Linked DNA regions of Homo sapiens: region 2 is linked to region 1. The links come from fine-mapping of genetic effects on plasma protein levels. A gene starts in region 1. The other region holds a variant in brackets. All regions are shown on one strand. Distances are from middle to middle.

Region 1 (4,400 bases):
CTTCGTTTCTACAATCACAACATTCCTGAGGTAAACAGGCAAGGTGTAATCATTCTTTTTTTACAGAGGGAGAACAAGGAACTTAGGGAAATCAAAATGGGGACACTAACAGGATTTCTGTGGAAATTTAAGTAAATGAGAATTTGTAGTAAATTTTTTATCCTAAAACAAATAACTCACTTTGGCCGAAAAATGGGATGTTACCCAAGGTCCCCTACTGGGCCGGCGGAGAAAAGGACCTGCCTCCTACAGGGGCACAAACAAGGCAGACTAGGACCCAGCAGTCGGCCAAGGCCCAAGGGTCTCCAGTAAGGAAAATGTAAAATGTGAGTGTGTGAGACTGGCCTAAGATATAGGAAGAGCAGTAAAGAGAAGAAAACTGACGAGCAGAGGGGGAAAAGAATTATTAAACATGGTCAAGGAGCAAGGAGCACGACAAAGCCTCAGGATTTCTTCAAGGGATACTGCTGTGCCAGGTCTCAAGGGCAGAAGGATACAAGCACAAGACACCAGGGCCACCAAGCTGATGGGGTTACTGAGCCTCTGGACAGCACCTTCTGATAGGAAGCAAGGAAGCACACTACAAAGGCTGCAATCCTGGAGGCTGAGACAGTCAAGAGGGAGTGGAAGGGCCTCTGCTGCTCTGGGAAGGTATCTTATAGGGCAAATAAGCTCTTACTGTGTGCCTAAGAGAAAGGAAGAGGGAAGCGAGGCAGGTGTCATGGCCTTAAGAACTTTCTAGAGGTTTCTATTTATTGACATTTGACCTAGACCTCTTCATGAGCAAGGCGCAGCCTTGGGCTACAGGTAGGAAAGTCAGCATCCTACTCTCTCCTCAATTCCATCTGTTAATCCACCAACCCAAATCCCTCCCACCCCCACCTGAAGTCCAAATAAGGTAAAATGATAAAATGATGTGCTGTTCTCTCAACAGTTGGCTGAGTCTGAATTGGAGGGTAGGAAGCATTTGAAGCTCTGCCCATTTAGTTCCAGAACAAAAAATAAGCAGAGGCAGGAGGTGGAGAGCAAAGACGCTGGCAGCCCTGCGTCTGGTCTTTATAGCTGTGTCTTTGGATTTGTAGGCCACTCCTCAACTTTTCAGCTCCCGCACGATTCCTTAGGGCAAGCGACCAGTGGTTGACACCGCATATACACCTGGCTTAAAGTTATTGACTCGCTGCCAGTTGGAGACCCAGCTGTCCTCTGGACTCATCATCGCAATGATTCCATCAAAGGAGGAGCTGGTGCAGCCATATAGCATCTCTCAGTTACCCTTCATCTGTAGATATGCATCTCAATAGTCACAACCATCATATTCAAACTGGTCTATAGTACCTTGACCAGTGAACACAGCAAACAGGCCCACAGATGCCACAGGTCCTTCAGCACCGTCTCCAGGGCCATCTTCTCCAATGAGAAGAGCAACAGCAAGGAAGATGGCCACAGCCTGAGCACCCGCAGGAAGTAAACAGCTCGTTAGCCGGGTCTCTTCTTATAATTCCATCATGAGGACCCCATTCTCATGACCTCATATTAAACCTAATTACCTCCCAAACTTTTGACCTCCAAATGCCATTACGTTGGAGGGTAGTGCTTCCACCAATGAATTTTGAGGAGATACAGACATTCACTCCCTAACAGTGCTATAAATGAAGTCAGGGACCCTGATGGTGTCTTTATCACAGAATCTTACATTTTCTTTGTCTTTGCCTTAACACAACTCTTTTTGCTCACCTAGAAAGTTCTTGGGATTTAATTAACTGCTCTATCATCTCTTCCTCAACTCGAAAACAAAGGTTGCTGTGTCTTCACATGCCATGTACACACAAGGTATACTTTAAAAGTTTTTGTTCATTGTTCACATTGTCTTTTGCTCTCTTAGACTCAACTTTTTATTCAGTCCAGAGAACTTTTTAGTATAGAACTCACCCCAAGAATATAACTGCCTTTGAAAATATAATATTCACAAAAAGAATTTAAAAAGAGGGGACATTTACTAAATTTTTATTGGGCATAACAATTATTTCTTTTAGGGCGTTGCTAAATTTTTTGTCTAAATGAAAAAAAAAACAAATTGAGAAATTCCACATTTCACACTGATCTAGTGATCTCAACATACTTGTGGGTTTCTACTAACTGTTGTTTGGTATTGCTTTCTCAATTTCCTTTTTTTTTTTTTTTCGCCTCATCTCCCGGAATGTATCAAAGGAAACCCCTGTCTTTGAAAAAGACTTCTTTTGAGCTAACTTTCTTATACTGGTACCTTTCTAATCTCACTACAATATGTAACATTGGTGTTCGATCTCAAGTATTTCTGAATATATTCCCCTATCCACAGAAATATACTCTGGGGGAAAAAAAATAGAACAAATTCTTGCCGTCCTGACCATTGAACAAGAGACTAATTAGACAATGGGGCTAGAAAAACCTCAAAGTAAACGTGAGTACTTTCTCTCCTTTCCATTTCAAAGAAGCAGATGGAATTATACTAATTTAAAACATATGAATTGATGGTAGTTTTAAAGATTGTTGATGATGACGGGGAGAAGGAGGTGGAAGGAAATAAAAATGACGTTGGTGAAGAGGAAGGACATAGAGTCAAATAAGTTGGATAACAGAAACTTCTTTATAAAATGTATATTGGACCAAGAGGGGAGATAAAATATATAAAAGAGAAATAAGATGAAAAGAAAGAGAGTAATATGAGAAGATTCTTTTAAAGAAAAAAGAGAAAAGGAAGATGTAGAAAAAGCATTTAGGCTTATGCTGTATCAGAGGCTCTAACTGTCCCATTTTATGTTTGACTTAAGTGACACCAGTGGATTTGTATTGTGATAATATTAAATAATATTTTTGATAGATATATAGAACAAGTGTGGAAATGTTTAAATTAAAATTAAAGTTTTACTTTATCTCATCACCCTACCATGGCAAACTGTAATCACAGTGTGATCCTATTGAATTACCTTTTTAGGTAACAATATTTCTTAGAGATTTTTTGCATCAATATATACTGATTACATGCTTATTTAATTACTATACAGAATATCATTGTGTGAAGGGACCATAATTTAGAATTTCCACTATTGATAATATACATGTAAATATTAGATTACAGTATGTGTTTTCTATTTTGAGAAGTACTGCAATGAATATCTTTTAACATAAACAAGCTCAATTATTTCTATAGAATAGACACCTGTAATTGAAATTATTGTGGCAAATGAAATGCATTTAAAAATGGATAAATGCCACTAAATTGATCCTTCTAAAAGGCATTCCTAATTTTCCAGTCCAGGCAGCAGCATTTATTTTCTCACTAAGAGTGCTTATTTCCCCTCAGCCTTGCCAACACTGCATGTACTTAATTTACTTAAAAAATCTGATGTGTGAAAAGTTATACCACAATCTTTTCGTTTACAGTTCCCTGATTGGGCATATTTTTGTTTGATTAGTGGCTATTTATAACTTCAGCAAATTAAAATTTCAGCAAATTTCCTGCTCAGAGTTTTGCTCAGTTTTCTAGTTGATTTTGAAATACTTTATCCAGTGCGGATATTAATATTATGAGAAGACTTTCCTTTCATACGTTCCTTGACTCTAACATTGCTTGTGTTATATAGAAGTTTTAATTTTTATGTACTCAAATTATCTATTCTAATGGCTCTTGGGTTTTGTATCTTACTTATAAAATTCTTTTCATTTCAAAATTACCAAGAAATTTTACATTTTTCTTTCTTATTTATTTATTCATCAATAAGCTCTAAAATTGATTTATTTGGAGAAAATATTTATGCTCTTCTCTAGATCTGAAATATTTGGTTTGCTGTCACTTTTAGATTGCTCCTTGGTAGAATTAGCTTTCCTAGCTTGTAGCTGAGAGGAGGTTAATCTCTATTTTTCTTTTGGTCCTAGTGGAAGGAGGCATGCATCCCCAGCTGATACCTTCGGTTATTGCTGTAGTTTTCATCTTACTTCTCAGTGTCTGTTTTATTGCAAGTTGTTTGGGTAAGTTATTAGCCAAAGTAGAACTCTTCTTGAATTATTATTTCCAAACAACTTTTCTGAAGTTGCTCTAAGCCTTTTGGTATCTTGATTTTTCCTAGCATAACCTATCTATAATATCTTCAGGGTCTTGCACTGAATATTCAGAGCTACATTCTTGACCTTCTGTCTTTCAATGGTGGTACCTTGTGATAGAGATTGATTGATGGAATTTAGACCATTTTCTGTACATGTAAAAGTTGGTTACTATAGCAAATTTCCCCCCATTTTGGACTGGGATCACAAAGGGATACATCTTATGAGAAAAGAGTAAGCAGAAGAAAAATAACTTTCAGATAGACTGGCTTTGAAAAGAACAAGGTTGGAAGAATTGTTCTCTCTCTCTCTTTCCCTCT
Region 2 (4,400 bases), 28 kb after region 1:
CAGAAAATGTTGCTTTGTAAATTTTGATGTTCACCTTTGGGACTATTATACCTGATCCATAATTGTAGCAGGAGAGCTCTGTGAAATTCTCAGGTAGCTGAAACTTTTTCTCATCACAGGTTTGAAAGATGCGAAATGTCACTGTAAAAGAAAGGGCATAATGTTTGTTAGTCTTATTTCGGTTAAAAATGTCAGTTCCCTCAGTTTTGTATTTATAACAAAAGTGCCAATAATTATCATGTTTTTTCTTACAATCTGCTTTTTCTTACGACCCAGAGAAAATAGATATGTTTGCACTACCTCTTATGCCAAGTCCAACTCTCTCTACCCTTCCTTCCAAAAGTAATTAGTCATATCTCTGGTGCCGACCAGTAGTTCAAGCTCTAAGGCAGACTCTCCTAGAGAAGGTTACACTAATGATAGAGGCTGAAAGAGGAGGATTCAGGACTGCCAAGGAAGTGAAAAATGTCTATCATGAAAAGTAAGTCACAGGTGATTAAAATTCAGAAACAGTTCCCTGCTTGTTGAGGTTTCTGGTTTGAGAAATAACCTAGAGATTAATAGGGAAAAAAAAAAGGGTGAAATAGAAAGACCCTTTGAGGGCAAAGAGAGTCTACAGGCAGCATGGAAGAGTTTTCTCCTAATATGCACCAGGAAGAATTAAATTGAATTTGACCTTCAGAACCCACCAACACATCTGGTGATGAAACAGGCACTGAGAAATAGGATGGGGATCCCAGCAACAGTCCATAAGAACATTTGGGAAGAGAAGCATCCTCTCTCTGTAGAAAGAAAGACACAAACATGATCAATCTTCCCTAAGCAAGGTACAAAAGAGATAGAAGAGATTCTTATTCATCCTTACTTATTTCCTTCTACTTCCATTGTTTGTACTGAGTAATTCCCAAATTTCAGCATGCTTCAGAATCACTTGGAGGGTTTATGGAAACACAGATTGCTGACCCTTACCCCCAGAGTTAGCAACTCAGTAGAGTTTGTATGGAACCAACAAGTTCCCAGGGGCTACTGCTGCTGCTGGTCTGAGGACCACACGTTTAGCACCCCTGGAGTAAGACTCTGACTCATGAACTCAGATATACAATTTTTCCTTTCTAAGTCTCTCAGTTAAATTTTTTTCAGTATTTTCTAAGGCCCCCCTTCTTTCTTTTTCTTTCTTTTCCCTTTTCTCGTCTTTGCTTTTCTTGTCCTTCTCCTGATCTTTTTTTTTTTTCTGTGTCTCACTTTTCAAGCGCTTTGTAAATTAGGTAAAATGTTAACAGTCATCTAATAGTTCCTCTCTTCCTCCCATTAAACATTTTACAGACAAAGAGAGTTCCAGAGAAGTGAAGTGACTTGCCAAAAGGGACACAATGTATTGCAGAAAGGGTGGAAACTGATAGCTCTCCCTTAGCTAGAGGCCAGCAGGCTTTCTGGTATAAGAAATAGTCTTTAAATCTCTCTCTCTCTCTTCCTCTGTCCCCCCACTTTTTTTTTTAACTTCAGTGAATACTTTTCTATTGTCCTGTCTTTCACCATATTTATCACTTGTTCCAAAAAGAGATCTATGGAAGGAAAGGAAGAGTTGCAGATTTTACCTGTGCATTGTGTTTCAGATGATTTAGATGAATTCATTTTTTCTCTCTCTTTGGTTTTTTG[T/C]TTCTCTCTCTCTCTTTTTCTCTCCCTCCCTCTCTTTCTTTCTCCTCAGGAGTGTTTTGTTGGTAAGATTCAGGGAGAATGAATCTTGAAAGATAAACACTTTGTCTTTTAGGAAGTTCAGCTCCGATAGATGTAGAATATTAACTTGTTCTGTGGCTACGCATTAAGTCAGGATTTCCTTTCTTGCATAAGGAGGACAAGGAAGTTTATTGGACAGCATGTCAGTTCTCTTCACTCCATGTAACAACAAAATGAGGAAATTATGAAATGGTAAGCATCAACACAAATAGGCTAGCCATGGGGAAACAGGAGAGTTTTTTTTTTAAATGTTGTTTCGTTTCGTTGGACCAAATGTCTCTAGTTTCTTCAAGGCATAACTCATCCCCCAGTTTTTCCTTGACAATATGGAGCTCACCTCTGCACTCTGAATTTCACTTTGGATCTGTACCATCCACACATTTGGTAACTGAAAAGAAGACTTAGACAACATAGCACAAAGCTGGGCATATAGTGTATGTATTTAGGACATGGCAACCTGAATTTTTTCATCTTTTTTTTTTTTTTTTTTTTTGAGACAGAGTCTCGCTCTGTCGTCCAGGCTGGAGTGCAGTGGCATGATCTCCGCTCACTGCAAGCTCCGCCTCCCGGGTTCAAGCCATTCTCCTGCCTCAGCCTCCCGAGTAGCTGGGACTACAGGCGCTCGCCACCACGCCTGGCTAATTTTTTGTATTTTTAGCAGAGACGGGGTTTCACTGTGGTCGTCAGGATGGTTTCAATTTCCTGACCTCGTGATCCGCCCGCCTCAGCCTCCCAAAGTCCTGAGATTACAGGCGTGAGCCACCGCGCCCGTCCTCTTTTTCATCTTTTATGGTTTTTCTTTCTTCTTCATTTGCAGCTCTTGAATATTCTAATGTTGTGGATTTATGTCCCTCTTATCTTATGCTGACTACTAGGCTGCTACTACTAGGCTGACTACTAGAGTCCCCCTCAGCAGGACAGCCTCATGTGATTAGACCACTTTGAAACTCAGCTTAGTTTTTCACAACATAACGCAGCTTCTGAAGTCTCAGAGACCCAGCAGGCAGTTTAATTCTCCTGTTCTCAATTATTTGGGGATTTTAGTTCTATGTTACAGCCTACAGTAGGAGAAATGTATTTGAAGGTCAGAAAAAGCAATTTCAATTAGATATTAGAATTTAATGGTTCTCTGGGCCGGGAGCAGTGGCTCATGCCTGTAATTCCAACACTTTGGGAGGCCAAGGTGGGTGGATCATTTGAGGTCAGGAGTTTGAGACCAGCCTGGCCAACATGGTGAAACCCCACCTCTACTAAAAATACAAAAATTAGCCAAGTGTGGTGGCACGCATCTGTAATTCCAGATACTTGAGAGGCTGAGACAGGAGAATAGCTTGATCCTGGGAGGCAGAGGTTGCAGTGAGCCAAAATTGCACCACTGCACTCCAGCCTGGGCGATAGAGTGAGACTCTGTCTCAAAAAAAAAAAAAAAAAAGAATTAATGCTTCTCTGGAAGAATAGTTAGATATGTGCCTTCTCCTTACTTAAAGATACTTAAGAATAAGATCACACTGGTCTCAGTTTATTTAAGTTCACGAGTCAGGAGGCATAAGTATGATGTACATGACTTGGTAAATCCCCACATCCAGTGACTCACGAATTTTCCATGTGTGAGAAAATATTCTTGTTCTCAAAGGGACTTTTTATTATTTCAAGGTACTGGTCAATTTTCTCTGCATTCTCTGTTTTATAGTAATACAATTTTAAAAATATCTTTAAATTATATATGTGTATATTATAGAATATACCCATATTTAATATGTGTATTCTCAGCAAATAGCTTTTGATCAGTAAAAAAAGAGAAACTATCTAGTGGATGAGCTATATGAATTATAAAATGATGAACATAATTACCACAGTCCATCTTTTATTAATTACAATCAACCAGCAACCATCAATATTACTAAACAATTGTATGTTAATTTTTATCAATATACAATTAAACAGAAATCAATAAATTAATATTTTTTCCAGCCAAAATGTTTTTATATCTTTTGTTTCATTGATTTTCCCCAAATTATACGAGTAATATGTTTTATGATTAATACTATGAAAAGCATGTGACAAGTAAAAGCCTTCTTAACTATCCTTAGTGCATTCTTCTAAAGTTGACCATGCTTAATGATTTCTTTTTTGGGGGGGGGGATTAATTTTTATTTATTTTTATTTATCTTTTATTACACTTTAAGCTTTAGGGTACGTGTGCACAACGTGCAGGTTTGTTACATATGCATACATGTGCCATGCTGGTGTGCTGCACCCATTAACTCGTCATTTAGCATTAGGTATATCTCCTAATGCTATCCCTCCCCCCTCCCCCCACCCCACAACAGTCCCCAGAGTGTGATGTTCCCCTTCCTGGGTCCAAGTGTTCTCATTGTTCAATTCCCACCTATGAGTGAGAACATGCGGTGTTTGGTTTTTTGTTCTTGCGATAGTTTGCTGAGAATGATGGTTTCCAGCTTCATCCATGTGCCTACAAAGGACATGAACTCATCATTTTTTATGGCTGCATAGTATTCCATGGTGTATATGTGCCACATTTTCTTAATCCAGTCTATCATTGATGGACATTTGGGTTGGTTCCAAGTCTTTGCTATTGTGAATAGTGCCACAATAAACATACGTGTGCATGTGTCTTTATAGCAGCATGATTTATAATCCTTTGG

Which allele goes with the higher level. Alleles are on the strand shown, and positions count from the first base shown. The strength of an association depends on the size of the effect and on how common the allele is.
With allele C in place of T in region 2, the plasma level of the protein whose gene starts at base 2,183 in region 1 is lower (strong association).

The links. PIP is the posterior inclusion probability: the model's chance that the variant is causal. The UK Biobank Pharma Proteomics Project read protein levels with antibody pairs (Olink). The fine-mapping took linkage between variants from a reference panel, not from the people measured, so its PIPs are less certain.
Region 2: its variant is fine-mapped to the plasma level of the CLEC4D protein (UK Biobank, PIP above 0.99).

What each region holds. Positions count from the first base shown.
Region 1 is chr12:8,511,321-8,515,720 of GRCh38, forward strand. It overlaps CLEC4D (C-type lectin domain family 4 member D), which reads left to right and starts at 2,183. Exons shown (of 6, transcript NM_080387.5): 1 at 2,183-2,440; 2 at 3,916-4,008. The coding sequence starts at 2,413. It also overlaps the pseudogene SUPT4H1P2.
Region 2 is chr12:8,539,166-8,543,565 of GRCh38, forward strand. It overlaps CLEC4E (C-type lectin domain family 4 member E), which reads right to left and starts at 1,740. Exons shown (of 6, transcript NM_014358.4): 1 at 1,596-1,740; 2 at 690-782; 3 at 52-141. The coding sequence starts at 1,632. The variant T/C (reference allele first, on the strand shown) is at 1,657.